4 separate regions of the Homo sapiens genome follow, and all the other regions are linked to region 1. The links come from fine-mapping of genetic effects on gene expression. A gene starts in region 1. Each other region holds a variant in brackets. All regions are shown on one strand. Distances are between the middles of the regions. Region 1 holds the start of NXN (nucleoredoxin). Region 2 overlaps NXN (nucleoredoxin). Region 3 overlaps NXN (nucleoredoxin). Region 4 overlaps NXN (nucleoredoxin).

The links.
Region 2: its variant is fine-mapped to the expression of NXN in whole blood (INTERVAL, PIP above 0.99).
Region 3: its variant is fine-mapped to the expression of NXN in pancreas (GTEx, PIP 0.96).
Region 4: its variant is fine-mapped to the expression of NXN in atrial appendage (GTEx, PIP above 0.99).

What each region holds. Positions count from the first base shown.
Region 1 is chr17:975,638-983,761 of GRCh38, forward strand. NXN (nucleoredoxin) reads right to left here and starts at 4,139. Exons shown (of 8, transcript NM_022463.5): 1 at 3,682-4,139. The coding sequence starts at 4,041. RefSeq lists enhancers at 3,052-3,987, 5,412-5,706.
Region 2 is chr17:912,558-920,681 of GRCh38, forward strand. The region is part of intron 1 of NXN (nucleoredoxin); the gene reads right to left. Among named protein-coding and RNA genes, the nearest start is that of NXN, 63 kb to the right of the region's middle. RefSeq lists an enhancer at 5,972-6,489. The variant T/C (reference allele first, on the strand shown) is at 3,994.
Region 3 is chr17:875,530-883,653 of GRCh38, forward strand. The region is part of intron 1 of NXN (nucleoredoxin); the gene reads right to left. Among named protein-coding and RNA genes, the nearest start is that of MRM3, 97 kb to the left of the region's middle. The variant G/T (reference allele first, on the strand shown) is at 4,130.
Region 4 is chr17:892,342-900,465 of GRCh38, forward strand. The region is part of intron 1 of NXN (nucleoredoxin); the gene reads right to left. Among named protein-coding and RNA genes, the nearest start is that of NXN, 83 kb to the right of the region's middle. RefSeq lists enhancers at 4,429-5,628, 5,538-6,179, 6,180-6,820, 7,324-7,825. The variant A/G (reference allele first, on the strand shown) is at 4,352.

The sequences.
Region 1 (8,124 bases):
GTCCAGAGGAAGCCAGTGGTCTGCACCCTTGGATGTCAGTGCACCCACACTGACCATATGTTTTTGATCAGGCATCCAGCCCAGACAAAGTTGAGCTCTGCGACTTTAACACCAAAAGAGTGCTCACTTCTATGAGGCTGAAGTGGATCCCGGAGACGGACCTCTCCAGTCTTGACGAGTGAGTAACATACTAATCCAAAGGGAAGACCAAATCCCCAAAGTCCAAATTTCACCACCTCCTGACTATCGATCACATTCCTTCTCTCTAGAAATGTGAAAATCATCTACCAACCTACTTATTAAAACAAGTCTAACTGCCTTAACTTCAGGATTATAGATTTGCTGATGAAATTGTTATAAATGCTCTCAAAGTTCTATTACCATCTAATTACAATTTATGCACAGCTATATAATAATGTGTGTTTTGGAAGCTGAAATAATATGTGTTTTGGAAGCCAAAAAAATTAAGCTTCAATTACTTTTGTACCTACCATGACAACAGGCAGAAACAGGACAATTTTGTATAAAGAATGTTTTTTTACATTTTTGTCCTTTTTTTTTTTGGTGTTTTCTCACAGTTCCTGTCAAGGTGAGAGGAACCAGGCAAAATGCAGGCTTAACATATACGGTCATCCCCAGGTTTTTTTTAACTATATAAAGGAGAAATTAATAAAAGAAAAAAAGAAATACCACACAGCATTTTCTTTCCCCACCATAATTTTTCAATTTTCTTTAGAGAAATGCCAGCCAATAACTAATTAGAACCATACCCTTTGTTATCCCAATGGGAAGAAGTATACGCATGGGCTTAAAGAACAAATGTTAATGAGAATTTAAAAAAAATTAGCAATCTGGAACTCTGGTTTCCCTTCAGTGTAAAACAAAATTCCCTTCTCTAGAGTTATTTTTATCATTGGCGAAATGACACGGATAGAGTCCATCCACAAGACGTGTTCACCCATCCAGTGCCCTCAGCTGGGAGAACTCCGGCTCTTCACTTGTTCTGATGGGGAAATTAGCATCATTAGCTCACGGGCTTCTAAGCACCCTAACTTCAAATGAGACAAAAACTCAGTTACAGAAAAGGCATTTGTTCCACATCTCTTTGGTTTCAAGGGGGAAAATAATTCCTTTTTTTTTTTTTTTGAGACAGAGTTTCGCTCTTGTTGCCCAGACTGGGGTGCAATGGTGCGATCTCGGCTCACCGCAACCTCCGCCTCCCAGGTTCAAGCGATTCTCCTGCCTCAGCCTCCCTAGTAGCTGGGACTAGAGGCATGCGCCACCAGGTCTGGCTAATTTTGTATTTTTAGTAGAGACGGGGTTTCTCCATGTTGGTCAGGCTGGTCTGGAACTCCCGACCTCAGGTGATCCGCCCACCTCAGCCTTCCAAAGTGCTGGGATAACAGGCATGAGCCACCGCACCCGGCAATAATTCCTTTTAAAATCAGCACGTAGCTTTTGTAATTTCCAAGAGTATGTGTTCCATAAGAAGGACAGCTGGAGTCTTTTTACCTGGTATATATCCCCGAGAAAGATCTTGAGTGGTTTGTTCACGACCAAGGAAAGAAACTACCTCCTTGAAAACTGGACTGGTTTTAGAGAATAAAGTATAGGATGTGAGTCAGAAAAACTCTGGGCCAAAAAATAAAATGTTTAAGATGCTAACGCACCAGGGTTTGGGCACGTCCAGCACTCTCAACGGTATTTTCAAATGAGAGTCTGCCCTGTGTCATCCAGGTTCTCATCATGGAGGAATCAGCAGGTCCAGGCTAGGGCCGCAGAATACTTTTTGTCATGCAAAGAGCCTGTCCAGGGTATAGAGAGCCAGCCATGGCCCATGTCCTATCAAATATTCTCCTTTTTCGGAAAAAGCTCTAAGCATTTGCAAAACATCTGTTTGCTCCATATTTTTACTATCCAAAAAATGTATTTCCTCTTCAGTAAAAAACACAACAATAGGCTGTTAAGCCTGTAACATTTTACCATAATTCTATGTTTTCAAAAGCTAGAAATCATTTGTATTGCCGGATAAGGACATTATTTTAAGTAGACTTTAGTCTACAACAGAAACTTGCCGTAACAATGAAAATGTTTTTTGGCAAATCCCTTTCTGAACATTATTTCTCCACGAACGTATCACAAAAACCACCACCAAGGAAAACAAAGGATTCTCGTATTTTGAATCAAAAAGTACTGGCCATGCATATTCATACTATATCAAGCATGTCAATCAAAATGGGCAAAATAACCTAAAAAGCAGTAAAAATGCCAACTCTTGCCTCTGAGTGGTTAGTGAACCTATGTTTTCCCAATATGAAATTTACAAACTGCATCGGATCAACTGTATTTCATACTTTAAATCTCGAATCTCTACCTCCCACTGCTTCGGGATGGATGATTTACTCAAGACATTTGGGGTCACAGTGTAAGCCTTTTGCTCCCAGTAAATCTAAATCATGCTTCTCAACAAGATTCTGCACATATAAAAGGAACACGTGGCACGCCTCGCCATGCTCCCCAGAGGAAACTAAACGCCCCCAGAATAGCCCTTCTGTCCACTCCAGAAACAGGCTTTCCTCAAAAAGGGAAAGGGGCTGGATTCACACGTTGCATCATATACACTCACGAAGCAACAGCGCTCCAAAACTTTTTCTGACTCCATTCATTACAAAATGTCCTGGATGTGCTTTATTATCACAGAGACAGACATCCTCACCCAAGGGACACACTCAGAAACCCAAACTCAACTCGGCAGCAAACTGGGAGACACGAGAAGTTGACAGCAAAGTATCCATTTCCCCAAATCCTCCTTCTTCCAGTCAATGTGCATCGATGGGGTCAGCTCAGCCCTTAACTCGAAGACCCCGGGACCACAGGGGCCACCACGCAGCTGAGCTCTGCACAGCCCGGGCTGTTCCCGCGCCCGGGAGGCGTCTGGGGAGGAGGCTGGACGGCCAGACAATGCAAAGCTCCCCGGTGGCCGCGAACTCAGCCTGGGGCGGGGGAGGCGGGGGCGGGAGACGGAGCCGTGAGCGCCCTTCTCGGCCACAGCCACGGCCACGGTCACCGGCCGCCTCTCCTGACCTCGGCCTCGGCCCCCAGGTCCCCGGTCCCCGGGGAAGGGGCTCCGGGAAGGCAGGTTTCTCCCGGAAAGAAAGGAAACGCGCTGGTTTGGGCGCCACGGGCGGGGGGCGTGCGCCCTCCCCTCCCCTCCCCTCCCCACTGTGGGAATCCGCGGGGGTCGGCGGCGGAGGCAGGAAGGGCCTGGCGCCTCTGCTCGCGGGTGAAGGGGTCGCGGAACCGGGATCCCCGAGCGCAGCCGCCCCCACCCGAGGCTCCCAGCGTGTGCGGACGGAGGGGCTCGAGCCGGGATCCCGGGGGCCGAGGGGGGTCCAACTTTCCAGGGCGGGCGCAGCGCAGCACTCGAACCAAAGAGGGGTCCTGGGATGAGGGTGCGGGCACAGCGCGGAAGGGGGGGGGGCAGAGGCGGGGACGGCGGGGTGGGGGGCGGGGAGAGGACAGTGGGTCGGGGGGCGGGGGACTGGGGGCAGGGGTCGGGGGGTGGAGGGCGGGCAGGGGGACAACGGGGTTGGCGGAGGGCAGGGGTAACGGGCGTGGGGGGCGGGCAGGGGTAACGGGCGTGGGGGGCGGGCAGGGGCCGGCGAGGCCCGCGCCGCTCACCTTCCTGTGCTTCTCCTTGTAGGGCAGCGCCAGCCACGGCATGTCCCGCACGAAGTCCTGCCACTGCCGCTGGTCCTGGTCCGAGGACACGAAGACGATCTCCAGGCGCCGCCGCGGCTCGGGCTCCGCCGCCGCCCCGGCCCCCGCTCCCGGCCCCGGCCCGGCCGCCGCGTCCCCCCGCAGGCGCCCGTAGAAGGCGGCCAGGCTGGCGCTGAGCTGCGCGCAGGGGGCGCTGAGGCTGCAGCCGAAGTAGAGACCCAGCAGCGAGATGCCGCGGGCGCCCAGCGAGTGCACGTCCACCTCCTCGCCGCCGCCCGTCACCAGCTTCTCGCCGAGCAGCTCCTCCAGGAAGCCCGACATCCTGGCCCACCGCAGGGCGGGCAGGCGGCTGCGACCCCGCTCCACGGTCCGCGCGGCGGGAGGAGGCGGCGGCGTCGGCGGCAGGCGCTGGGGAGAGCAGAGCCCGGCCCAGTAGGGCCGCCCACGCCACGCCCCCTCCGCCTGCCCGCGCCACGCCCCTTCCCCCGCCCTGCCACGCCCCCTCCGCGGCCCGCGCCACGCCCCTTCGGCTGCCCTCGCCACGCCCCTCCGCCCGCCCTCGCCACGCCCCCTCCGCCCTCGCCACGCCCCGTTTGCGGCCGGCGGTGGCCAGAGCTCTCCGCCCAGGCGGGGTCCGCAGCTGCCGGCCGCGGTGCGCGGGGTGACTGCTTGGGCGAGAAGCCGGACCCGAAACGCCGCACTCTCCCTGGAAAGCCCACGGCCGAAGTGAAGAAAGGAGAAGGGCCCGCTGAGCCGGCGCTTTCCCGGGCTGCAGCCCGGCCCGCATTTTCTCTCCTCCCCAGTTCTAAATTCCCTCCAGACCTCCAGGGATCCCGCCCCCTCCCCGCGGAGCTCTTCACCCTCTTCCTGTTCCTCCCCGGCCTTTCCCTCCTCCTCTCCCTGCACGAAGCCTGACCCTTAGGCCGCTCCGGGCCCCACTGACCCTGAGATGCTTATAGGACCCGCCGTCCTCACTGCATCAGGCCGGGCCTGGCTGGACACTGACTCCTCTGTGTGTTCCAAGCTGTTCTAAGGGGGCCGAGGACGCCCTCGCAGCTTCTGGTGGGGTCTGGTTAGGGTGCCAGGTCTCAGTGTGGGATTTCCGTCCAGGGGTCGCCGGGGCCTCTCCCCCCAGCGAATCTGTCTTCCAGCCCCACAAATGGATGCAAAGGACGCCGCGGGGCCTCCAGACCAATGCTGGCCGCGCTCCTGAATCCGCTCCATCCTCATGTCAAGTCTATGGATAGTTGAGAACATTTCTAGAGATTTTTTTTTTCCTACCAGCTGGCAGGATGCTCCCCAATGCTTAGGGAGAAGCTGGATTAAACAGGTGGTCTGGGCCGGGCGCGGTGGCTCACGCCTGAATTCCCAGCACTTTGGGAGGCCGAGGTGGGTGGATCACAAGGTCAGGAGTTCGAGACCAGCCTGGCCAATATGGTGACACCCCCCCCCCGCCTCTACTAAAAATACAAAAATTAGCGGGGTGTAGTGGCAGGCACCTGTAATCCGAGCAACTCAGGAGGCTGAGGTAGGAGAATGGCGTGAAGCCGGGAGACGGAGGCTGCAGTGAGCCGAGATCGCTCCATTGCACTCCAGCCTGGGCAACAGAGCAAGACTCCGTCTCAAAAAAAACAAAAAAACAGGTGGTCCGTGGCGAGTACTCTGGCCACGCAGCGCCTCCCCCCAACCCAACCCACTGGTGCACGAAGCAGGTGCAGATCCGGGCCCAGCCACAGTAACAGGCCGCCGGTGTGGATCAGCTACTGACGACTCAGCGAAAGCAAAAAAATAAAAGCTGAAAACCCGCCCCTCTCAGAGCTTCCACCGCCGCTTCGGAGGATATTTCCTGTGCATCCATCGCCACCTAATGGAAAGAGTGAAAAATGAGGCCGACCAAACTCCATTTGTGAAAAGACACTGCCGGGACACCAGGCACAATGCTTTTATTTTACAGCAGCTTTCCACATACACAAATGATAGGACGCTTTGCGGGAGCTAATTTAAACCTCAGAATAGAACTTCAAGCTTTTGGCACAAAACGTAAGTGTTCACATCGAAGGTTCTCCGTTTTTCTAGGGTAGAATAAGGAATGGTGCAGGGTTCCAGCTTGGTGAAATGTTACCATATAAAACAATTGGGAGAGGTGGAGATGGGAGCGGAAAGTGGACTGGCGTCTCTACAAGTTATATCCACTTCCTTAGTCACCTGCTGGTATTGCTAATGACACAGGTAAGATCTTAGATGGAGGACCGCCTTCGAACACCCTAGAATCCTACTGCAAAGTCGAATTCCACCTTAATTCTCAGGAGACTTTCATGCTGAAAGTCTGTGCCACTGTAGGGACAATATTATAAAACACACACAGAAAGCATCACTTTTTAGTGAAAACTTTATTTATTTATTTATTTATTTATTTATTTATTTTGAGACAGTGTGGGCGGCAGGCCACCCAGGCGCTGAGGCAAGAGACCGAGGACACAAGCCGTTCCAGTGTAATAAAATATAAAATAAGAATAGTTATACCAGATATAGATCTTAGATAGGCTTATATATGAATATCATTAATCATTAGTTTGTAGCAATTACTCTTTATTCCCATATTATAATGATCCTCGCTCTATAATCATAATCTAGGGAAAACCAGGCCATACAGAGATAGGAGCTGAGGGGACATAGTGAGGAGTGACCAGAAGACAAGAGTGCGAGCCTTCTGTTATGCCCAGACAGGGCTACCAGAGGGCTCCTTGGTCTAGCGGTAACACCAGCGTCTGGGAAGACACCCGTGGCCAGGCGGACTGTGGTGTAGCGGTAGCGTAAGTGTCAAGGAAAAACACCCGCTACTTAGCAGACCGGGAAAGGGAGTCTCCCTTTCCCCGGGGGGAGTTTAGAGAAGACTCTACTCCTCCACCTCTTGTGGAGGGCCTGACTGCAGGTTCGCCCACAATTATCCGGAGGCCTAACTGTCTCCCTGTGATGCTGTGCTTCAGTGGTCACGCTCCTAGTCCGCCTTCATGTTCCATTCTGTACACCTGGCTCTGCCTTCTAGATAGCAGTAGCAAATTAGTGAAAGTACTAAAAGTCTCTAATAATGGTGGAAGCTGTTTCTCTCTTTGTCTCCTCTCTCTCTCTGCCTCGGCTGCCAGGCAGGGAAGGGCCCCCTGTCCAGTGGACACGTGACCCACATGACCTTACCTATCATTGGAGATGGCTCACTCTCCTTATCCTGCCCCTTTGTCTTGTATCCAATAAATATCAGTGCAGCCTGGCATTTGGGACCACTACCGGTCTCCGCGACTTGGTGGTAGTGGTTCCCCAGGCCCAGCTGCCTTTTATCTCTTTGTCTTGTGTCTTTATTTCTACACTCTCTCGTCTCCGCACACGGGGAGAGACCCACTGACCCTGTGGGGCTGGTCCCTACAGACAGAGTCTCACTCTGTTGCCCAGGCTGGAGTGCAGTGGTGCGATCTCAGCTCCTGCAACCTCTGCCTACCAGATTCAAGTGATTCTCCTGCCTCAGCCTCTCGAGTAGCTGGGATTACAGGCATGCACCACCTCCCAAATAGCTGGGATTACTGGCATGCACTAATTTTTTTGTTTTGTTTTGTTTGTTTGTTTTTTGCAACAGAGTCTTGCTCTGTTGCCCAAGCTGGAGTGCAGTGGCGCGATCTCGGCTCACTGCAAGCTCCGCCCCTCCAGGTTTAAGCAATTCTCTGCCTCAGCCTCTGGAGTAGCTGGGATTACAGGCGTCCGCCACCAAGCCTGGCCAATTTTTTGTATCTTTAATAGAGACGGGGTTTTCACCATACTGGCCAGGCTGGTCTCAAACTCCTGGCCTCAAGTGATCCACCCGCCTCAGCCTCCCAAAGTTCTGGGATTACAGGCATGAGCCACCACCCGGCCTTGGTGAAAACATTTAAAGCTACTCATATCATATATATTAAGTTACTAGGCCAGGTGAGGTGGCTCACACCTGTAATCCCAATACTTTGGGAGGCCGAGGCGGGCAGATCATGAGATCAGGAGATTGAGACCATCCTGGCTAACACAGTGAAACCCCGTCTCTACTAAAAATACAAAAAATTAGCCGGGCGAGGTGGCGGGCACCTGTAGTCCCAGCTACTCGGGAGGCTGAGGCAGGAGAATGGCATGAACCCGGGAGGCGGAGTTTGCAGTGAGCCGAGATCGCACCACTGCACTCCAGCCTGGGCGACAGGGAGAGACTCCATCTCAAAAAAAAAAAAAAAGTATATATATACACACACACACACACACACACACACACACACATAGTTACTAGACATCTTTTGAAATCCTGTAAATGGGTTACAATGTTTTATCATCTCATCCAAATCTTATCTGAAAGGCCCATGCACTGGGTACGTGGGTTAGGCACTACTGAAAGAG
Region 2 (8,124 bases), 63 kb before region 1:
CAAACAGAACCAGGCATCTTTTCATGTTTATGTGTCTTTCTCTGTTCAAATTCTTTACCCAAATTGATTTTAAAAGCTCTTTATGCATTAAGAAAAAAAACAGGCCAGTGGGCAGTGGCTCACACCTGTAATCCCAGCATGAAGATTACATTTGGGAGGCCGATGCGGGCGGATCACCTGAGGTCAGGAGTTCGAGACCAGCCTGGCCAACATGGTGAAACCCCGTCTCTACTAAAAATACGAAAAATTAGCCGGGCGTGGTGGTACGTGTCTGTAATCCCAGCTACTCGGGAGGCTGAGGCAGGAGAATCGCTTGAACCCGGGAGATGGAGCTTGCAGTGAGCCAAGATTGCACCACCGCACTCCAGCCTGGGCGACAGAGTGAAACAAGGAAAGGAGAAAAGAGAAAGGAAAGGACGGAAAAAAGAAAGAAAGAAAAGAAAAATAGCACTTTTCTCTGTCATATACGTTGGAAATATCTTTTCTCACCCTAGGGTTTATCATTTGATCTGGTTTCTGGTATTTTGGACCATATAGAAGTTTTATATTACAGTCATCTCTTTTATAGTCACCAATAAAATCTAGATTAATTCTCTGAACATAAATAGAGGCTAACTTCTTATTAGGAGAAGTAAAATTGAACAGAAAATTCATGAGTCACCAAAAATCCTTCCCGATTTTGTAAAATCTGGAAAAGCCAACAGTTGATCACCAAACCACTGCCAGCTCCCAAATGACAGAACTCATCCACAGAGCACCCCCACAGCCCAGGATGGCCCATTTTCTCCTGGAGTCTGAAAAGTCCATTCGCTTGTCAGTTTTCCAGAGTCTGGGAACCCTTTTTGCCTCTAGCGCTGGCTTAGCTGTTTCAACACAGAAGTGATCACAGATGAAGATGTCGGCCCCTGCCCACAGCAGAGACTCCTCAACACGACAGACAGAGAGCAACAGGCTGAGAAAGGAGAGTCGGTCAGTTTCCCAGAGACATCGTGGCACAACAGAGACCAAAGGAAAAGAGGATAAGGAGGCAGGTTCTCCACCTACCCCCACGTCCCCAGGCAATGCAGAGACCGGGAACCGATAAAGAGGCAGGTTCTCCACCTACCCCCACGTCCCCAGGCAATGCAGAGACCGGGACCCTTCTCAGATGACTTTTCTCTCCTGGCACCTGCTCTTTCTTATCCTTGTAGTAAAAGAGCAGACAAAAATGAAGCAGAAAAAAAATGTGTAAACAATTGCCCTTTCCATCTACACTGGCATAAACTCACTTACTTAAGTGCAAGGACATTCATTATAACGGCGTGTCCTCCCAAACTCGCGGAAGATTTTTATTTTATTATTTATTTTTATTTTTATTTTTGAGACAGAGTCTCGCCCTGTCGCCCAGACTGGAGTGCAGTGGCACAATCTTGGCCTACTGCAACCTCCGGCTCCTGAGTTCAAGTGATTCTCCAGCCTCAGCCTCCCGGGTAGCTGGGACTCCAGACACCCACCACCACACCCAGCTAATTTTTGTATTTTTAATAGAGACAGGGTTTCGCCACATTGGCCAGGCTGCTCTCGAACTCCCAACCTCAAGTGACTCACCTACCTCAGCCTCCCAAAGTGCTGGGATTACAGGCGCCCGCCACCACGCCCAGCTAATTTTTGTATTTTTAATAGAGATGGGGTTTCGCCACGTTGGCCAGGCTGGTCTCGCACTCCTGACCTCAGGTGACTCGCCTACCTCAGCCTCCCAAAGTGCTGGGATTACAGGCACCCGCCACCACGCCCAGCTAATTTTTGTATTTTTAGTAGAAATAGGGTTTTACCGTGTTGGCCAGGCTGGTCTCAAACTCCTGACCTCAGGTGATCCACCCGCCACAGCCTCCCAAAGTGCTGGTATTACAGGCACAAGCTACCACGCCCGGCCAGAAGGAAGATTCTTTTTAAGGCGAGAAGTATGCAATGAGACAGTAGAGGCAAGGTCAAAGGCAAACACCGAGGTCTGTAATTGGTAGCGCAAGCAAGGTTCCTAGAGGAGACAGGAATATACACAATTCAACAAACATGTATGAAATGCTACCTTGTGCTGAGCATCGAACCAGGCGGAGACAAAGATGAGGAGCAGAGACTCGCTTCTGACCTTCAAAGAGTCCACAGTCCATTGAGTGAGGTCATTAACTCAGCAAGCGAGTTAACAGGGAGCGTACCGTGATGTGGGAAGCAAGACTGTTGGGTGTAGAGGAGGCGGAGCTGGATGTGGGGAACCAGGGCTTCCCCTGGAGGAGCTGATGAGTGCGTGGAACCAACAGCACAGGCAAATAAAGCAAGCAAGTGAGATGAGTTTTCCTAAAATATTAAAGGGGGTGAAATCGCAGACACTTGTACTGGAAAAATTTCAGAGTTGATTTTTTTTTTTAGACAAAGTCTCGCTCGCCAGGCTGGAGTGCAGTGGTGCGATCTCGGCTCACTCCAACTTCTGCCTCCCAGGTTCAAGAGATTCTCCTGCCTCAGCCTCCCAAATAGCTGGGAATACAGGCACCCGCCACAACGCCAAGCTCATTTTTTGTATTTTTAGTAGAAATGGGGTTTCACCATATTGGCCAGGCTGGCCTCGAACTTCTGACCTCGTGATAGGTCCACCTCAGCCTCCAAAAGTGCTGGGATTACAGGCGTGAGCCACTGCACCCGGCCAGTTGAGGATTTTATAGTTGAGAATAAGTGGGATTATGATTAGCATGACCTCTAGGAATTCTTTCTCTCTTTCTTTCTGAGATAGAGTCTCACTCTGTCGCCCAGGCTGGAGTCATCTCGGCTCACTGCAACCTCCACCTCCTGGGCTCAGACAATCCTCCTGCCTCCGCCTCCCAAGTAGCTGGGACTACGGGAGTGTGCCATCACACCCAGCTAATTTTTGTATTTTTTTGTAAAGACTGGGTTTTGCCATGTTGCCCAGACTGGTCTCAAACTCTTGGGCTCAGGCAATCAACCTGCCTCAGCCTCCCAAAGTGCTGGGATTACAGATATAAGACACCACACCTGGACTCTAGGAAATTATTTCTAAGAAAGGAGTAAAAGTGAGAATGAATGAGTACATAGTGTAACGCTTCCGAGCTTTGGTGCAGGAGGAAAGTAAATAACAAGGATACCCCAGGGCTGGAAACTTGGCAATAAACCAAGAAGGCAGAGACCAGTTAGTGCAACACTAAAATGCCTGACCACTTATGGGGCCAGAGCTGGGGCTTCCAGGTGAAACTTCCCCTAAAATGGGCGGCCACTTATGGTGTCAGAGCCGAAACTTCCCCTAAAATGGGCGGCCACTTATGGTGTCAGAGCTGGAACTTCCAGCTGCTCCCCCTCTCCCAGTTCTTTTGTCCTTGTCCCTAGAGTTTTGGTCTCCAAGCAATCGGTTCTGTGTTTTTGTTTGTAGGCTCAATTTTAAACCACATTTTGTAAAGGCACTTCTCAAAAGGCAAAGATAAAAACACTGAAGCTCTTAAGAGCGCCTGTCTGGCTGCCAAGCCATTGTTCTACTCAAATGTCGAATGAAAAGGGAGAAACAGAATGATGATTGTATTTGAATTGCTTCCAAGGAAAAGTAACCTCCAGCAAAACTCTAGGCCCACTTTGCTAGAAATCCTGGCACGTCGGCAACAGAAATGGAGGCAGAAAATTGCATCTTTCAGAAAGCAGAGTATCAAACAGGAAAAGCCACAAGGAGTGAGGTGCTGTGAGGTTCCCGTGGTGCAGGATCCATTTTATCCTTTCTACTTCTTCCTGCTGAAAATGAGATTATTTAAAACAATTTAAAAGACAATTTTCCCTGCAAGGGGCCTTTTGGAAATGAGTCAAAGTCAAATCCCTTGTTTTACGTAAAATTAACGTATGACATTTCAAAGTTACCAAACTAAAAAAAAGGAAAATAAATATAAACACATTCCAAAACTTAAAAATGAAGGAGATTTCAGACAGTCCCTCCTGGTAAAATGTGAAATTGCACCCCAGCTGCAG[T/C]AGCTACTGTAAATATCCAAGGAATCAGTTTTAAGTGTTTGGGGATCCCAGGGATCCCTGCAAAGCACTCAGGATTTTAACATTAAGCTCACAAATTACAGCAGCTGGCCGGGCACGGTGGCTCACGCCCGTAATCCCAGCACTTTTGGAGGCCGAGGCAGGTGGATCACCTGAGGTCTCCACTAAAAATACAAAAAACTAGCCAGGTGTGGTGGCGGACATCTGTAATCCCAGCCACTTCGGGGGCTGAGGCAGGAGAATCACTTGAACCCGGGAGGTGGAGGTTGCAGTGAGCTGAGGTTATGCCATTGCACTCCGGCCTGGGCAACAGAGAGAAACTTCATCTCTAAAAAAAAATTACAGCAACCAACAGGCCTCTAGGTTAGTTACCACCCTAACCTCTTCGTTGTAAATTTTCAAACCACCTTGAAGGTGGGTATTTTTGGTGGGTCTTTATCTTCATTCATTAATCACATTATCAGACATTCCCTGTGTGTCCTGTTCTGTTATACATGCTGAAGCTACAAATCAAACATCCGCTTTGCCTCCAACAAGATTCCCTGTTCCTAAGTGAACCAAGGAATGAGGTGTTCCACGCCTGAGCTCACATCTTTTTTTTTTTTTTCTGTAGCCCAGGCTGGAGTGCAATGGCGCGACCTCGGCTCGCCGTGGCCTCCGCCTCGCGGGTTCAAGCGATTCTCCTGCCTCAGCCTCCCGAGCAGCTGGGACTACAGGCGCCCGCCACCATGCCCAGCTAATTTTTTGTATTTTTAGTAGAGACGGGGTTTCACCATGTTGGCCAGGCTGGTCTCAATCTCTTGACCTCGTGATCCGCCTGCCTTGGCCTCTGAAAGTGCTGGGCCTCTGAAAGAACAGGCGGGAGCCGCCGCTCACATCTTTACTCATGAACCTAAACTCACAGAGCAGCCCCACACTGTCGTCTGTGGAAACCACACCAGCTCCTCCTCTTCCTTCTGGACCTGCTGTCCCACCCTACGCCCATTTTTTATCTCCACCCACTCTTTGAACTTAGCACTGGTGTCTACAGGCTCGATTCCCAGCTCTCCCACAAGGACGTGGCTCAGACGCACGTCACCATCTCAACCCAATGTAGGCCACCCGCTGCAGGCGAGCTTCCCTACCCAATCCGACCTCCTAGACGGACACCCCAGGTTCCAGCCCTACAAGGGGCGCGTACTGGCACAACAGGCGGGCGTGGCTCTCGCTCCCCAGGAAGGCCTCGCAGAGGTGGGGACAAGGGCGGATGGGAAAGGGGATAAGCGACAGGAGAGGGGGGACTCCCGTTCCAAACAAAGGGGACTGCGTACTGGTGAAGAAGAATGTGGTCTGTATTCAGTTTTGTTGACAAGAACCCCTAATGGATAATAATAAAATGTTTACTGAGCTCGTACTTTATGGAAGACACATGGCTCACGGCAGGGCCCGGCACATCACAAAAACTCACTCCGTATTTGCAGCATAAAGGAAATCTCAGTTTCAGTTTTAAAAGTTGTGTGTCTAAACCAGAAAATAACTCATAACATGATCCTACTAAGAAGATGGGCCAAAAACAGACAAAAGAAACACGAGAACACTCAATATCACCTCCCCCAAAACAACACAGCATTTTCCTCCTGTAATCAAACAATCACAAACCAGGCTGTGCTGGGCCTGGCCGTTGTGCCAGAAACAGCCCCAGAACCCTGGGCCCAAAGGGGTCTGGTCTTGATTAAGATTATTTTCCTTTGTAACGTTCGGTTTGGAGGAAAAGGCGGGAGGGTCGGAAGGAAATGGGAGGAGCGCACGATCCATCAGCGAGTTTCATCGCAGCGTTTCATCTCCTTCGTGAACTGGGCTCAGGGAGGCCGTGACTCCCATTTCCATTTGGCTCCCGAGTCAATCACTCACTTTCATTCCAGCTACTTTTTGTCTTAATTTCTTGACTTAAAAAGGGTTTGGTTGAGGCCGGGCGCAGTGGCTCATGCCTGTAATCCCAGAAAGTGAGGCCGAGGCGGGCGGATCACCTGAGGCCAACAGTTCAAGAGCAGTCTGGCCAACACGATGAAAACCTGTCTCTACTAAAAATACAAAAATTATCCAGGCGCGGTGGTGGGCGGCTGTAATCCCAGCTACTCAGGAGGCTGAGGCACGAGAATCGCTTGCACCCGGGAGGCAGAGGCTGCAGTGAGCTGAGATCGCGCCACCGCACTCCAGCCTGGGAGACAGAGACTCAGTCTCAAAAAAAAAAAAAGGCCGGGGGTGGGGGGGCGGGTGTTTGTTGAATCCTTGGTGAATTTAAGGACTCAGAAAACAAAGTAAGTTAAACTACGTTTCCACAGCCTCCTTCCTCATTAAAAATGTCTCTGCAGCCAGGCAAGGTGGCGTGCGCCTGTAGTCCCAGCTACTCGGGAGGCTGAGGCGGGAGGATCACTTGAGGCCAGGAGTTTGAGGCTGCAGTGAGCTATGATTGCACCACTGCACTCCAGCCTGGGCAACAGAGTAAGACCCTATTGCTTTAAAAAAAAAAAATGTTTCAGCCAGGCTCGGTGGCTCACACCTGTAATCCCAGCACTTTGGGAGGCTGAGGGTGGATCACGAGGTCAGGAGATCGAGACCATCCTGGCTAACATGGTGAAAGCCCGTCTCTACTACAAATACAAAAATCAGCCGGGCGTCATGGCGGGCACCTGTAGTCCCAGTTCCTTGGGAGGCTGAAGCAGGAGAATAGCTTGAACTAGGGAGGCAGAGGTTGCAGTGAGCCGAGATTGTGCCACTGTACTCCAGCCTGGTGACAGAGTGAGACTCTGTCTCAAAACAAAACAAAAAAAAGGTTCTGGAATGATTATTCCAATTAAACAGCTTTTATTACAATACTCTGTCAATGCAGGGCAATCATTCCTTAAGATGCTAGAAAACGTGTTATTGTAACACGAGGAAAAAGCCCTGTAATCTCAGCACAACCAGAAATTAAAGTGGCAGTTTTGGGAGGACGCAGTCAAACGGCTTTCTACAGCACCTCCTCGTATCGTGGGTTACAGAACCTACGTCGTCCTCGGAATCCCCGCATTCGTCCCACGCGGCCCTCAGACACGGGCTCTGGTTCAAGGTGGGAGACAGAGACAACACCAATCAGCCCTTACCAGGCAGTGCGTGGCTCCAGAACAACAACTGAAAATAATATTGGAACGCAGTCCAGAAAATACAACTAGGGGCAGAGCGGTCCGGCACAAAACACCAGGAAACGCTCTCCCTTCCATCATTCAATCTTGGCGGACCACACTGGTATGCGACCTCATCTAGCTACATAGCTACACCTCCCTCTTGTCACCTTGCAGACTGGTATTCACTAACCCCCAGGCCATGGCGGAAAATGTACCTTCCATCTCTCTCTGCCTCAGCCCCCACCGGCACCCTTGGTGCCTTCATCACCCATCCAGAGCAACTACCCACTTCCACGGCCTCCTCCATGTGAGGACCTCCGCCTCCAACTCTCTTCGAGCCACCACGCGGTGCAAATGTTTGTATTTTTGGTGGAGACAAGGTTTCGCCATGTTGCCCAGGCTGGTCTTGAACTCCTGGGCTCAAGCGATCAGCCCATCTCAGCCGCCCAAAGTGCTGGGATGACAAGCACGAGCCATCACGCCCAGTCTACACCCCGAAATCCAACATTACAAACTTATCAATGCTGCCTCCTGTCATCTCCCCCCGCCCCTGGCTCCCGCTTTGACCTGGAGGAATCTGGCAACGTCAACATCAAGTGATTGTTCAAATTCAGCCAAGGGGGCCGATGAGGTGCCCATGTGGCTCTCCTCCCAGCCCCGAGCGCCTGGGGATACCTAGGCCCTCCTGTCATGCCCCAAGGCCAATGTAGCCTTGGGGATGCCGAGCCTGCCTGATCCCAATTCCTCCAGCGTTCTCCTCCCAGGGTTCCGCTCCCTCCCCAAGTGACCAGCCCTCACCAGCTCACTCCAGCTCTGCAGCGTTCTCCCAGGCTCTCAACCCTCGACGCTCATCCAGGTTCATTCGCCATCCGTATGCCCTAGCCCAGGGTGGGTCTCATCAACTGTACCCTCACTGGCAGCACCCAGGACGTTCTCAATGAGGTCTTCATTCATACCGCCTTGCCAATCG
Region 3 (8,124 bases), 100 kb before region 1:
TAAGAGCAGAAGATCGAATCAGACTAGTGTGAAATGAAATAGGGTTTTTTTGTTGTTTTGGTTGTGGTGTTTTTGTTTTTGTTTTAAGATTCTGCTCTGTTGCCCAGGCTGGAGTACGGTGGTGCAATCATAGCTCACTGCAGCCTCCAACTCCCTGGGCTCAAGTGATCCTACCACCTCAGCCTCCCAAGTAGCTGGGATTACAGGCACATGTGACCATGCCTGGTAAATTAAAAAAAAAAAAAAAATTGTAGAACCCGGTCTCATTTTGTTGCTCAGGGGGTCTCAAGCTCCTGGCTTCAAGCTATCCTCCTGCCCCGGCCTCCCAAAGTGCTGGGAGTACAGGTGTTGGCTACTTTCAAAAGCTTTTTAGGCCGGGCACAGTGGCTCATGCCTGTGATCCCAGCACTTTGGGAAGCCAAGGTGGGCGGGTCATGAGGTCAGGAGATCAAGACCATCCTGGCTATCAGGGTGAAACCCCGTCTCTACTAAAAATATAAAATTAGCCGGGCGTGGTGGCGTGCACCTGTAATCCCAGGTACCTGGGAGGCTGAGGCTGGAGAATCGCTTGAACCTGGGGGGGTGGAGGTTGCAGCGTGCCAAGACCGTGCCACTGCACTCCAGCCTGGGCGACACAGTAAGAATCCATCAGAAAAGAAAGAAAAAAAAGAAAAGAAAGAAAAGAAAAGAGAAAGAAAGAAAGAAAGGAGAAGAGAAGAGAAGAAAAGAAAAGAAAAGAAAGGAAATGCAGGTGCCCAGAAAAAAAGGCAGGCTCCCAAAGTGAATACTAAGACACTCAATCTCACATGTTGTCAAAAAAGCTATTGAAATTTCAGGTGACAGAGGGACTTAAGAACAACGGTGCTCAAGGAAGTCAACACAGGCTACGACGTACAGGACTCCCAATCCGGCTCATGACCACATCCCCTATTGTGGTCATTTAGAACACGCTAGGCGTCCTTTGCTCTAAGCGTGTTTCATGTACGTCTCCCCATCAATGAAGAAAGCACCTGGAGAGTAGGAAGTAAGAGTTATGTACTCTGAGATTCTCTCTTAAGCCCAGGAATCAGTCTCACTGGGCGGGGAGCTCAACAGCGCTGTTAGTGTCGTTCGCTGATAATTACTTTCACACTAGAATACCATCTTCATTCCTCATTTATACGGGAAACTCCTTGTGGTTCCCTTTGGGGCACCAGCTCCCAGCACATTCTATGTCATCAAAATTAACTCTTGGCCGGGCGCGGGGGCTCACGCCTGGAATCCCAGCACTTTGGGAGGCTGCGGGGGCGGGGGGATCACCTGAGGTCGGGAGTTCGAGACCAGCCTGGCCAACACAGTGAAACCCCGTCTCTACTAAAAACACAAAAAATTAGCCGGGTATGGTGGCGGTCGCCTGTAATCCGAGCTACTCAGGAAGCTGAGGCAGGAGAATGGTGTGAACTCGGGAGGCTGAGGCAGGAGAATCACTTAAACCCAGTAGGCAGAGGTTGCAGTGAGCTGAGATTGCACCACTGCACTCCAGCCTGGGTGACAGAGTGAAACTCTGTCTCGAAAACAAACAAAAAAACTAATTCTTAATATATTAAACAAACGTACTAAACAACTATGGGAACAGCGACGGTGTTGTTTTTTTTTGGAGACGGAGTCTCACTCTGTCGCCCAGGCTGGAGTGCAGTGGCATGATCTCGGCTCACTGCAAGCTCCGCCTCCCAGGTTGATGCCATTCTCCTGCCTCAGCCTCCTGGTAGCTGAGACTACTGGCGCCCGCCACCAAGCCCGGCTAATTTTTTGTATTTTTAGTACAGGCGGGGTTTCACCATGTTGGCCAGGATGGTCTCGATCTCCTGACCTCGTGATCCACCTGCCTCAGCCTCCCAAAGTGCTGGAATTACAGGCGTGAGCCACCGCGCCCGGCCGCGACTGTGTTTTTCAAACAGCTGCATTTACCAGCCACTACTGGATTCCTTCTACGTGTGAAGCCCTGTGCTAAAGGCTGGGAACAGAAAGATAATTGATACACGAGCCTTTCTTTCCTTTATGGAAGGCCCAGCCCCATACGGAAGACGGACGCGTACATAAACTATTAGGATACAGGAAAAGCGCGATACTACTGGCACATAGAGGAAATCGGGGAAGATGCTTAGAACAATGTCTGGGGCACACGCTCAGTGCTTTACAAAATACTCGTTATTTTTACCATCTAACCTTGTGAGTTAGAGCGACTGAAGAGGAAAGGCCGTAGCGTCTGAGCTGCTCTGTGAAGAATGAACCGGTTTTCACCAGGCAGGCCAGGAGTGGGATAGGGCGAGGCATCCAAGAAACAGCAAGAGGCAGGCAGAGCTCAGCACACGTTTTTCCAGACTGTGAACCATGAAGCTCTGAAGGCTGCTAGGAGGGCCACGGGAGCTGTGGGAGAGGGTGAGGCTGGAGCCCTGTGGGCTAACAGACAGGGCTCTAATTCGTGACATCGTGGCAACAAACTATTAGAAATGAGGCTAGACCTGGAAGCCCTGGGGGCACAGTCTGGAGGGGAGACAGACGAGAGCTAAGTAGAATGCAGGCAATGACGCCGTAACAGAGATCTGCACAGCGACCATTGCACAGCGTGGGGGCAGGCTTCTGAGAGGAGGTAACATGCTGAAAAGACAACGTGTACAGCTGACATTAGTACACAACCTCATCGGAGAGAGAAGAAGCGGAGGGAATCCCAGGAGCAGGGGCCATCATGCTCAAAGGTTCCAAGGTACGGCAATGGGCGATGTGTCTGGGGACCCTGGGGGTCGACCAGTGTGGCTGAGCAGAGTGTGCAAAGGTGAGGATGCTAGAAGGCCAGGTGCGGTTTCGGGGCGGGGCAGGGGTTGCCCTTGAAGGTGGGGTTTGGGGGTGGGGGAGGGGGTGCCCTTGAAGGAGGGGTTTGCGGGCGGGGGTGGGGGGACCTTGAAGGTGGGGTGTGGGGGCAGGGGAGGGGGTGCCCTTGAAGGTGGGGTTTGGGGGCAGGGGAGGGGGTGCCCTTGAAGTCCACGCCAGGGAGTTTGGGTTGGATCCACCCGTAATGAGGGCTGGCCCATAGGGCAGTGACGTGAACAACTGGTACTGTAGCCAGGTTGTTCTGGGAGCTGTGTAGACAGGGTGAGACTGGAAGTTGGTGGACTCATTAAGGGACTAGTGAAACAATAGTGCCCCAACCTGATTGAACCCAGTGAATGGGGGGAAATGAGAATGTCAAGGCCTGTAGCTTGGGTAGATGCGTCAGTGAGACCCTATTCATAACCAGAGCCTAAAAAAACACGCAGAGCCAGTTAAAAGCTCTAATATGTGTTTAAAGAACAAATTAATGAAAGAATGCGTAGACAGGCCAGGTGCGGTGGCTCACGCCTGTAATCCCAGCACTTTGGGAGGCTGAGGTGGGTGGATCACCTGAGGTCAGGAGTTCAAGACCAGCCTGACCAACATGGCGAAACCCTCTCTCTACTAAAAATACAAAAACTAGCCAGGTGTGGTGGCAGGCGCCTCTAATCCCAGCTACTCGGGAGGCTGAGGCAGGAGAATCACTTGAACCCGGGAGGCAGAGGTTTTAGTGAGCCAAGATCGCGCCATTGCACTCCAGCCTGGGCAACAAGAGAGAAACTCTGTCTCAAAAAAAACAACAAGTAGACAGAGAGGGAAGGAGAAGGAGAGAACAAAGCGGAAGAAAAACTAGTGAAGAGCAGGGAAAGGAATCTGGGTTTTTTTTGTTTTGGTTTGGTTTTTGGTTTTTGGTTTTTTGTTTTTTTTTTTTGAGACAGAGTCTCACTCTGTCACCCAGTCTGGAGTGCAGTGGCACGATCTCAGCTCACTATAGCCTCCGTCTCCCAGGTTCAAGCGATTCTCCCGCCTCAGCCTCCCAAGTAGCTCAGATTACAGGCGCCCACCATGCCAGGCTAATTTTTGAATTTTTAGTAGAGACGGGGTCTCACCAAGTTGGCCAGGCTGGTCTTGAACTCCTGACCTCAAATGATCCACCCGCCTCGGCCTCCCAAAGTGCTGGGACTACAGGCATGAGCCACCGCGCCCGGCCACGAGTCTGGTTTTAAACCCGTGGAGCTAAAGGTTTCTGGCAAGCAGGGAAAGGACACGACTCATTGACTGA[G/T]AAGCAGGAGGCGTCCAACACAAAGGCCTCTTGGGAACCCGCTGGGGTTTGGCGGGCGTCACCTTTCTGCATCTTGGGAGGAGAGCTGGTGGGAGGAGCTTTTCTGCAGGTGTCTCTTTCTAGCCTCCGGCAGGGGGCGGCAACAGAAGACGGTTCAGAAGAAAGAATGTGGCCAAGTATGTGTATTTCAAGCCAAAGGATTCTAGAAACTTCTCTCACAGGTACGGAATCCAACCACAGTGCCCACTGTGGTGAAGCCACTGCGCTGGTCCGAGAAGAAAGTGACAAACAAAATGACATGGAGCCCAATTCATCCTGAGAGCAGAACCTCGGAGCCATGTGGTTAAGATGGAAATTCCACTTTTAGTCCAAGCAAATCTTCTGATGTATCAAGTTTGAGGGTGAGGTTTCATTAAAGGAATTTAAAATAAAAAAGTGAGATCACAGCAAATTTTTTAAAATGATTGTTTCAGTGAAGGGAAAAAAGGTCTTTATCCTTATTCAGGGCGTAATTCCTGATCCTGGTCCCCGGAGACAACACCCACCCTTGGGCGAATCATTCCTGGGGACGGAGGAATGAGGGAGGCGTCTCTTTATTTCCGGGGGCGGAGGAGTGAGGGAGGCGTCTCTTTATTTCCTTGTATATAAAATACAAGAACTAAATACCTTGGATTAACAACCAGGGCTGGGGTTTGTGATAAGGCTGTGATTAGGACCACATAAAAGGAGAAAACGTCTTAATAAGAACTTCTTTGTGGCCTGTTAGAGCCTTTCTTAGGAAACTAATAAGTTACACTTTTCCTGGAGAGAAAATCTTGGAAATGACCCATTTCCCCAACAGGACATCATTTCCGGTCATTCACATGTGGTCAAGTTAAAAAAGATCGTTTGAACCTAGCTCAGCCAGGCCAGGGAGAAAATTAAAAATAAGTGTTTATTTTTCTGATTAAAGCCAAACAATGAGACTCAAAATAGGCCACACAAAACCCACAGAATCTTCCAAGTTCGCCTGAGCTAATGCATCCAAGGACGTCCACTCACAGGGGAAGAAGCAGAGGGGCTGGCCTTCTCCTAAGGGGGCAGGGCTGGAGATCTGTCAAATTCCTTATCCATATCTAGGAGCAGAGCTTCCTTTTGGCCAAAAGAGTAAGCTGACTGCGAAGGACAGATACTTCCAAGCAGACACTAAGTAATGCAGTTGGTTTGATAACAGGACAGATGAAAATGGAAGGCCTCCTCCGAAAATCCCACAGCCTGGGCCAGGGCTCCAAGGGGCTGACTGGTTCCTGTGGTTCAAATCTCTGCAAACGTCTCCTTCCCTCCTGCCCCATCTACGGCAGGTAGCTGAGCCGTGGCCCAGGCTCTGGGAGTGCACACTCTCAACAAGCAGATATGAACAGACACGTCCAGAAAGTAGATAGGTGGACAGCCAGTAAGAATATGCAAAGGTGTCATCAAGGAAATGCAAATTAAAATGATTTCACACTGACTAGAATAGCAAAAGTAAAACACACCCACAGTATCAAACCCGGGTGAGGACGTGGAGCAAGTGCGAGTCTCACACTCCGCTGCCGGGGACATAAATGGTGCAAACACTTTGTTGTTGTTTGAGACAGGATCTCACTGTTACCCAGGCTGGAGTGCAGTGGTGCGATCTCAGCTCGCCGCAGCACCCCAGACTCAAGTGATCCTCCAGCTTCCCGGGTAGCTGGGATTAGAAACGCGTACCACCACACTCGAAAATTTTCCATTGAGACGGGGTTTCGCCATGTTGCTCAGGCTAGTCTCAAACTCCCGGGCTCAAGAAATCTGCCTGCCTTGGCCTCCCAAAGTGCTGGGATTACAGGCGTGAGCCGCCATGCCTGGTCAGTACAACCACTTTGAAGAACCGTTTGGTCCATCTTATGAAGGTAAATGTTCATTTACCTGATAATCGACTCAGAATTCTACCGCTCAGGATTCCTACTCATCAGTATTTACCCAAGATAATTTTTTTAAGTCCATAAAAATGTTTATAACAGCCTTCCCCACCCCAAACTGACAACAACTCACATACATCCATCATTGGAAGAATGGATACACTGTGACAAGATGCTCGTCCAATGGGACACTTCTCAGCAATAAGAAGGAACAAACTGATGTATACAAAAACAAGGATAAACCTCACAATCATGCTGAGCAAATGAAGCCCGACACAAAATAACACTGACTGTACGATTCCATTTCCATGACGGTCTACAGGCAAAACTAAATTACAGTGACAGAAAACCAAAGCGACGGATGGGAGGGGGAGTCACCAGAGAGGCTCAGCAGGGGACTGTGCAGGGAGATGGAAATGTTCTTGGTCTTGTTTGGATAATTGTTCATATCGGTATAACAGCTGTTCAAACACACTGAGCTGGGTCCTTAAGAACCATGAATTTTATTGTGTTAAATTAAACCTAAAAAAAGAACTCATACCAACAAGAAGGAGAAAAAAATAATTTGTCTTCATCTCATCTAGAGCCAGGTAACTGAGAATTCCAGCGTGGGCACAGGGTGCTGCCTCCTGAGCACGGCCACCTTCCCACAAGTGACCACCTCCCCTCCCTCCCTCCCTGCCTTTCCCTGCCATGGTTCCCTGTCTCCATGAATGGAACCAACTACCCTCCACCCAGTGTCCCCAAACCAGAAACCTGGCAGTCCTTCCCCATGCTTCTCTCTTCCTCATTTCTGCTCAGTCACTTCCTAGACAGCTCCTGAATGAGGCGGAGCCCTCCCCCGTCTCTGCCCCAACTGCCTCAATTGCAGGGGTTTCTTTTGTTTGTTTTGTTTTGTTTTGTTTTGAGATGGAGTCTCGCTCTGTCACCCAGGCTGGAGTGCAGTGGCGCAATCTCGGCTCACTGCAAGCTCCGCCTCCCGGGTTCACGCCATTCTCCTGCCTCAGCCTCCCATGTAACTGGGACTTCAGGCGCCCACCACCATGCCCGGCTAATTTTTTGTATTTTTAGTAGAGACAGGGTTTCACCGTGTTAGCCAGGATGGTCTCGATCTCCTGACCTCGTGATCTGCCTGCCTTGGCCTCCCAAAGTGCTGGGATTATAGGCGTTAGCCACCGCACCCGGCCTCTTTGTTTTGTTTTTGAGACGTTGTCTTGCTCTGTCGCCCAGGCTGGAGTGCAGTGGCGCGATCTTGGCTTGCTGCAACCTCTGTCTCCCGGGTTCAAGCGATTCTCTTGCCTCAGCTTCCCTAGTAGCTGGAATTACAGGCGCCCGCCACCACGCCCAGCTAATTTTAGTAGACACAGGGTTTCACCATGTTGGCCAGGCTGGTCTGGAACTCCTGACCTCAGGTGATCTGTTCATCTTGGCCTCCTAAAGCATTGGGATTACAGGCGTGAGCCCCCGTCTCCACTAAAAGATAAAAATAAAACTTGGCTGTGTGTAGTGGCGTGCACCTCGAGTCCTAGCTACTTGGGGAAGGCTACACCTGGCCAACTTCCTATTTTTAAATGGAAAGAAAAAAACACACACCAGGGCCTTGTTTCCTATCTCTCCTGCCCATTCCTTCTCTCTCCACAACTCAGACAGCGACGGTGTCAATCAGGCCAGTAAGGGAAAGGCTGGGGGAAGACGATGCTGACTGTCTCTTACTGAATCTGTTTCTGAGACATGGAAACACCCTGTTCACAGAGGCCTCTCTTCCTCCCACCCCTGCCCCCCGCCCAGAACTCCCAGCAGAAGCTGCTCACTGGCTGTTGTCAAAGTAGTCTTTGTTCTTGGAGTTGAACCAGCACAGGCCTCAAATTTCCATCCACAGCTCCAAACCCCGCCTACATCACCTCCATGACCTCAGGCTAAGGAAAGAAAGAAGCTGGCCAAAAACATGCCAGGCTAAGAAGCCAAAGCTCCTCCCAAGAGAGATGACTCTGGAGGGGACCCTCTGGTCTCCTCTCCATGAAGCCAGGTCGATGCTGGAAGGGCAGAAATGCCCAGAAAGAAAAGCACTGAGGAAGG
Region 4 (8,124 bases), 83 kb before region 1:
TTCTGAATTTAAGACGGTGACAGTTACAGGAATGTGTGTAGGGATTATGGCTGGAATGCTGCCTCTCACTTACAGCTGACCCTCTTCCCAGGACTCTCCAAATCCACCTGGTGCCTCTCTTCTGCCCCCGCACAGCCAGGCCACCCCTCATCCAAACACCAGGTTTCCAGCACTGGAGCCTCACAAGCTCATCCCCACCCACAAAACACTCACAAACGCACCTGGCAAGTCAGTGTCTGCATAGCAGGTCTCGCAGTCTCAGCACTGCTGACACTTTGCTGGGAAGGGGCGGGGCGGGGTGGGGTGTGTGGGGGGGTGCTGTTCCGCACATTGTAGAATGTTCATCGCTGTCCCAGGAAATGCCAGTAATGCCCGCTTAGTGACAATCGAAAATGGTTCCAGAAGCCCAGGAGACTTTGAGACCAGTGAAACAATTCTGTATGATCCCAACCTGGTGGATGCATGTCATTCATTATGCATTCGTCAGAACCAACAGTGTCCAACACAAACAATAAACCCTAAGGTAAGCTGTGAACTTCAGATAGTAACAATGTACCCATACCAGCCCCTCAGTTGTAACAAATGTAGCGCACCAATGCAAGATGGTAATGACAGCAGGAATACCTGGAGGGCAAGGGAGGGGTACCTGTGAACTCTGTACTTTCTGCTCAGTTTTTCTGAAAACCTAAAACTGTTCTATGAAACAAAGTCTATCAATTAAAAATTTAAAGTCTTCAGACGTTTGCCTATGTCCCTAAAGGGCAAAGCTGTTCCACTTGGCAGATGCGGATGGGAGAACACGCCTACGCAGGCCAAGTCTCCAGCAGGGCAATGCTCTCGTTACTTCCACGAGTCAATCAGTGCAGTTGTATCAGGCCACGTTCCTGGACAGAGACTGGAAAAGGTGAGCTTTCTGAGTGCGCATGGGTTGTGGACACTCCTCTGGGGGATAATCTTTTTAGGGGAGAAAGCATGGAGCCCAGTCTCAGGAAACCCTAGGCAGAGGCTGGAGACAGAGGCCTAATCCTCCGGTCCCAGCTTAAAAGACAGCACCTTGGTTGCTATATTCACTCTGGTGAGAATGCCCTCCTTGGATTTCCCTTTTTCAAAAATTATCTCCATCGCTCAGTAGCGTGACATAAGAAATGGAAAGAAGCCTTGGCCTTCAAAAAAGGCCAGAGGAAGCATCTCAACGCCTGGAAGCCAGAGGAAGCATCTCAACCTCCGGAAGCCAGAGGAAGCATCTCAACTCCCTGGAAGCCAGAGGAAGCATCTCAATGCCCTGGAAGCCAGAGGAAGCATCTCAACCCCTGGAAGCCAGAGGAAGCATCTCAACTCCCTGGAAGCCAGAGGAAGCATCTCAATGCCCTGGAAGCCAGAGGAAGCATCTCAACCCCTGGAAGCCAGAGGAAGCATCTCAACTCCCTGGAAGCCAGAGGAAGCATCTCAACTCCCTGGAAGCCAGAGGAAGCATCTCAACTCCCTGGAAGCCAGAGGAAGCATCTCAACTCCCTGGAAGCCAGAGGAAGCATCTCAACCCCCGGAAGCCAGAGGAAGCATCTCAACTCCCTGGAAGCCAGAGGAAGCAACTCAACTCCCTGGAAGCCAGAGGAAGCATCTCAACCCCCGGAAGCCAGAGGAAGCATCTCAACTCCCTGGAAGCCAGAGGAAGCATCTCAACTCCCTGGAAGCCAGAGGAAGCATCTCAACTCCCTGGAAGCCAGAGGAAGCATCTCAACTCCCTGGAAGCCAGAGGAAGCATCTCAACTCCCTGGAAGCCAGAGGAAGCATCTCAAACGCCCTGGAAGCCAGAGGAAGCATCTCAAACGCCCTGGAAGCCAGAGGAAGCATCTCAAACGCCCTGGAAGCCAGAGGAAGCATCTCAAACGCCCTGGAAGCCAGAGGAAGCATCTCAAACGCCCTGGAAGCCAGAGGAAGCATCTCAAACGCCCTGGAAGCCAGAGGAAGCATCTCAAACGCCCTGGAAGCCAGAGGAAGCATCTCAAACGCCCTGGAAGCCAGAGGAAGCATCTCAAACGCCCTGGAAGCCAGAGGAAGCATCTCAAACGCCCTGGAAGCCAGAGGAAGCATCTCAAACGCCCTGGAAGCCAGAGGAAGCATCTCAAACGCCCTGGAAGCCAGAGGAAGCATCTCAAACGCCCTGGAAGCCAGAGGAAGCATCTCAAACGCCCTGGAAGCCAGAGGAAGCATCTCAAACGCCCTGGAAGCCAGAGGAAGCATCTCAAACGCCCTGGAAGCCAGAGGAAGCATCTCAAACGCCCTGGAAGCCAGAGGAAGCATCTCAGCACCCTGGAAGCCAGAGGAAGCATCTCAATGCCCAGAACCTGGGGGTCCTGCCGGGGGCAGCCTCTGCAGCTCTGCCACTGGTGTCCGCAGGGACGGGCGGAGACATGACGGAGGCGCCCCAAGAAGACGGTCCCCAGTTTTGCTAAACTGGCTGCTAAAATACCCCCTTCCATCTGAAAACATAATTGAGATGTGACTGCCTCAACTTTAAATCCACTTGGCTTCAGGCATTTGCATGGCTGAAACGTGGGCACACCCAGGTCCCCGCTGGCCGCCTTCATGATTCCCTGAAATCCTGGCTCTCCCTGATTGCCTTTCTCTCTCATCCTTTCCTTTCACCCTTTCCTTTTTTTTTTTTTTTTTTTTTTTTTTTTTTTTTTTTTTTTGAGACTAAATCTCACTCCGTCGCCCAGGCTGGAGTGCAGTGGCACCATCTCGGCTCACTGCAACCTCCGCCTCCTGGGTTCAAGTGATTCTCCTGCCTCAGCCTCCCGAGTAGCTGGGATTACAGGCACCCACCACCACGCCCAGCTAATTTTTGTATTTTTAGTAGAGACGGGGCTTCACCATGTTGGCCAGGCTAGTCTTGAACTCCTGACCTCAGGTGATCTGCCTGCCCCAGCCTCCCAAAGTGCTGGGATGACAGGCATGAGCCACCGCGCCTGGCCCACCCCTTCCCTTCATAGTTCATCTTCTCTAATGGAGAGAGGAAGAAAAGAGGGTACCCAAAGAAGCAAAAAAATGAGAGAAAATGAGAGATGATCAAACATAAACCACCATGGGGACTGCTGCCATGACACAGCTGGGTATGGGGAGAAACAGAATTCAGCAACCTTCTAAAGCTGCTACAATAATACTTTCTGGTTTAAAAAGACCCAATGTGGCCGGGCGCAGTGGCTCACGCCTCTAATCCCAGCACTTTGGGAGGTCGAGGTGGGCGGATCACAGGGTCAGGAGATCAAGACCATCCTGGCTAACACGGTGAAACCCCGTCTCTACTTAAAATACAAAAAAAAAAAATTAGCCAGGCGTGGTGGTGGGCACCTGTAGTCCCAGCTACTCGGGAGGCTGAGGCAGGGGAATGGCGTGAACCTGAGAGGCGGAGCTTGCAGTGAGCCGAGATCGCACCACTGCACTCCAGCCTGGGTTTTGTTTGTCTCAAAAACAAACAAACAAACAAAAAAACTAATTTTTCCCAACATCATTAATTCTTCTCAACAATGTAGTATCTTCCAAGGTGAATCTTTTAGTAAAATGGGCTTTACAAACTGTTGATGGGCTGGGGGCAGTGGCTCACACCTGTAATCCCAATGCTTTGGGAGGCTGAGGTGGGGAGGATTGTTTGAGGCCAAGAGTTCAAGACCAGCCTGGGCAACAGAGCAAGACTATCTCTACAAAAAAATTAAATAGGCTGGGCATGGTGGCTTATGCCTGTAATCCCAGTACTTTGGGAGGCTGAGGCAGGCGGATCACCTGAGGTCGGGAGTTCGAGACCAGCCTGACAACATGGAGAAACCCTGTCCCTACTAAAAATACAAAAAATTAGCCGGGCGTGGTGGCGCATGCCTGTAATCCCAGCTACTCGGGAGGCTGAGGCAGGAGAATCACTTGAACCCAGGAGGCAGAGGTTGCAGTGAGCCGAGATCGAGCCATTGCACTCCAGCCTGGGCAACAAAAGCAAAACTCCATCTCAAAAAAAAAAAAAAAATTAAGTAAGCAAGGCATGGTGGCGTGTGCCTGCAGTCCTAACTACTCGGGAGGCTGAGGTGGATTATTTGAGCACAGGAGTTTGAGATTACAGTGAGCTGTGATCGTGCCACGGCACTCCAGCCTGGGCAACACAGCAGACCCTGTGTCTAAAACACAAGAATAAAAAACAAGGAAGTAGAACTATTCCCGTACCTCTCCCTGTTGCCTCGCACACCGTATAAACTTACCAGACGTTAACTATCGTCTTCGTGTTTCAACTTCGCTTTAAAGTAAAATATAAACATTTATTAAACTATCCAGTTCTCCCACTTCTCATCTTAGTCACCCCGGCCCA[A/G]GGAAGTTTTTGTGGAATTGACAGATGACATCTGTTTTTACAGAGAGTTGTTTCTGGTAATAGAACCTTCTCCTCGACTTCAAAGCTTCCCTAAATTCTCTACAATAGACACTTGAACCTCTGCAGATCTCGAAGATGCTAAAATGGACCACGCGGTCCTGACCACCCGCCCCCGGCCCCTCAACAAACTCACGCTATTTCTCAGTTCCTGCATATCACACACAATATTCTTCTTTTTTTCCCAAGCCAGTCCCCTCCTAGGCCTGTTGCAGTGACGCCTCTCCTAGGAAAGTCCCCGCGGCAGATACACGGACTCCGTAATGGAAACTCCGGCGTGCCTAACAACAGCGTCACTGTCACACACGCGTGAGCTTTGACAGCCAGGGACTGGTAACCCACGGCCACCGCGCCCAAGAAAATTATTTCCCATGGGAGAAAGAAAACTACGTTCAGCTCCTGGCAGGTCCCAGGCAAGTCCGAGCCAGGCTTGCAGGGAGGCGAATGCTCTGTCCTGGGAAAGGGAGGCAGAGGTTAAGGGCTGTTCCCACCCTCCAGTGACCCAGATGGGAAAGGCAGCTGCGTGGACATCAAAATGACAGCAGAGACGTGTGGCTTTTCCCCAGCGTCACTGAAACAAAGCCAGCATGGGCTGCCCCACACTGTTTACAGGACAATCAATTAGCAAGATGGATCTCATGATTAAGAGAAACTCAATTTCTTCTTGAAAGCACGTTCTAGGGTGGGGTGCATCCTTACCACATCAGTCAGATGTCAAAAGGCAGCACGTAAATTGAATAAGGGAAGGAAAATGCCGGGCGGCCTCATTCACGTCCGGCATGTTCCGCTATTATTGAAAGGAAATTGAGAAATTAGACAGTACTGCCTATTAGCTTCACAATGCCCCGTCCTAGGGCAATCCGCAAAGATTTCCTCAGTGTGCTGTCAACTCTGTGTTAAATGAATTCTCGGTCCAGCATTTGTTTTTCTTTTATTCTTTTTTCGAGATGGAGTCTCACTCTGTCACCCAGGCTGGAGTGCAGTGGCACGATCTCGGCTCACTGCAACCTCGGCCTCCAAGGTTCAAGCAGTTCTCCTGCCTCAGCCTCCCGAGTAGCTGGGACTACAGGTGCCCGCCACCACGCATGGCTACTTTTTCTATTTTTTTCTTAGTAGAGATGGGGTTTCACCGTGTTGGCCAGGCTGGTCTCGAACTCCTCACCTCAGGTGATCCGCCCACCTCGGCCTCCCGAAGTGCTGGGATGACAGGTGTGAACCCCTGCTGCTGGCCAGTTAAGATTATTTTAAGGATAACTTGATATTGTGCACTTCAAAGTTCTCCATGGATTGAGCTGGTCAAGCAATGCTTAATTTTCAAGTAACTACCCACCTACTGCTGTGCCTTTCTTCCCCACAGCCATTCATCTTTGTTCCTGTCTTCATGGGGCTCAGGGTTTCTCAACCTCAGCACTTGGCGGCTGGATGGTTTCTCCCTGGTCGAGGCTGGTCTGTGCATTCCAGGATGTCCAGCAGCACTCCTGGTCTTTACCATCCCCCCAAGACTGGACAAACAACCCTGGGGGAAAAACTGCCCCAGTTGAGAACCACTTTCCTAGTTCCATGCACTCTGCTCTCCTGGGACACACCCCTCTTCAGCTCCCCTGCCTGGAACACCTTTGATCCCATCTTTACCTACTAATTCCCACTCTGCCATCTGGAGCTCGTCCGGACGCCACCTCCTCTGAGAAACTACTCTGAGGCCAGGTGTAATGTCTCACCCCTGTAATCCCAGCACCCTGCCTGGAACAGCTTTGATCTTCTTTACCTACTAACTCTTACTCTGCCGTCAGGAACTCGTCCGGACGCCATCTCCTCTGAGAAACTACTCTGAGGCCAGGCGCAATGTCTCACACCTGTAATCCCAGCACTTTGGGAGGCTAAGGTGGGAGGACCACTTCAGGCCAGGAGTTCAAGACCAGGCTGGGTAAGATGGAGAAATTTCATCTTTACAAAAAATACAAAAATTAGCCAGGACGGTAGTGCACACCTATAGTTCCAAGCTGAGGTGGGAGGACTGCTTGAAACTGGGAGGTCGAGGCTGCAGTGAGCCATGAGGGCACCACTGCACTCCAGCCTGGGTGACAAAACAGACTGTCTCAAAAAAACAAAAACAAAACAAAAAAACTACTCTGAAAGTCATTTCTTCCTATCCCCTCCCTGCAAAGAAGGAAGGACAGGGCTGGGATTCTGCCTCTGTGCATGCTTTTTTTTTTTTTCTTTTTTTTTGAGACAGAGCCTTGCTCTGTCGCCCAGGCTGGAGTGCAGTGGCACGATCTTGGCTCACTGCAACCTCTGCCTCCCGGGTTCAAGTGATTCTCCTGCCTCAGCCTCCCGAGTAGCTGGGATTACAGGCACCCACCACCATGCACAGCTAATTTTTGTATTTTTAGTAGAGACGCGGTTTCACCATGTTGGTCAGGCTCGTCTTGAACTCCTGACCTCAGGTGATCCACCCGCCTCGGCCTCCCAAAGTGCTGGGATTACAGGCGTGAGCCACCGCACCCCGGCCTGTGCATGCTTTTCTTACAGCACCTTTTATATTAATAGTACTATAACTGTCTCCTTACTTTGCTTAATACTCCATCTATCCATCCATTAATTCAACAAATATTGACGTGCTGGGTACAAAAAATAAGACCCTGAGAGAGACACCTGGATGCCCGCTCTCCTGAGCTCATATTCTCGTGAGGGAGGACGATCAATAAACAACAATAAACAAGAAAATGGCAGGTATTACTGAGAGCTGCAAAGAAGATACAGCTTGCTTCTCTTTCCCGCAAGGAGATTTAGCTCCTTGAGGGCAAAGACTGATTCACTCATGATTATATCGTCAGGAATTAGCGCTGAGCCTTAAAAAACAAAACCACGGATTCCGCACTTTCCTCCTTTCTCTCCTCTCTGTTACGGAGATTTAGGTACAGGGTTTCTTTTCCTGGGAGACAGTAAAAAAAGCTTCCTGCAGGGAGGGTCTTGCCCAGTTGATAAATTTTACAAGCTGGGGGCGGTGGTGCACGCCTGTAGTCCCAGCTACTAGGGAGGATGAGGCAGGAGGATAGCCTGAGCCCAGGAGTTCGAGGCTGCAGTGAGCTATGATCATGTCGTTGCACCCCAGCCTGAGTGACAGAGTGAGACCCTGTCTCTAAATTAATTATTTTCACAAAGGAAATCAAAGGGCTTTTGTTAAAGTAAATGATATCCTCAAGCTATAGAGTTTAACACTAAAACTTTTCTGAGGGCCGGGCGTGGTGGCTCATGCCCGTAATCCCAGCACGTTGGGAGGCCGAGGCAGGCGGATCTCCTGAGGTCAGGAGTTTGAGACCAACCTGACCAACATGGAGAAACCCTGTCTCTACTAAAAATACAAAATTAGCGGGGTGTGGTGGCGCATGCCTGAAATCCCAGCTACTTAGGAGGCTGAGGCAGGAGAATCGCTTGAACCCGGGGGGGCAGAGGTTGTGGTGAGCCAAGATTGCGCCATTGCACTCCAGCCTGGGCAACAAGACCGAAACTCCGTCTCAAAACAAAAAAAGGAAAAAAAAACACAAACTTTCTGAAGATATAGCCAAAAAGCTCATGAAGAGAGACAGCATTTTATAGATGGAGAAATGGAGGCCTGGAAATGGTGAGCTGCCCAAGGCCACAATGCCAGGAACCCAGAGCTGACCATCTGGCTTCAGAGCCCACTCTCTTCCCCACCAGATTCCCACCTCTTGCAG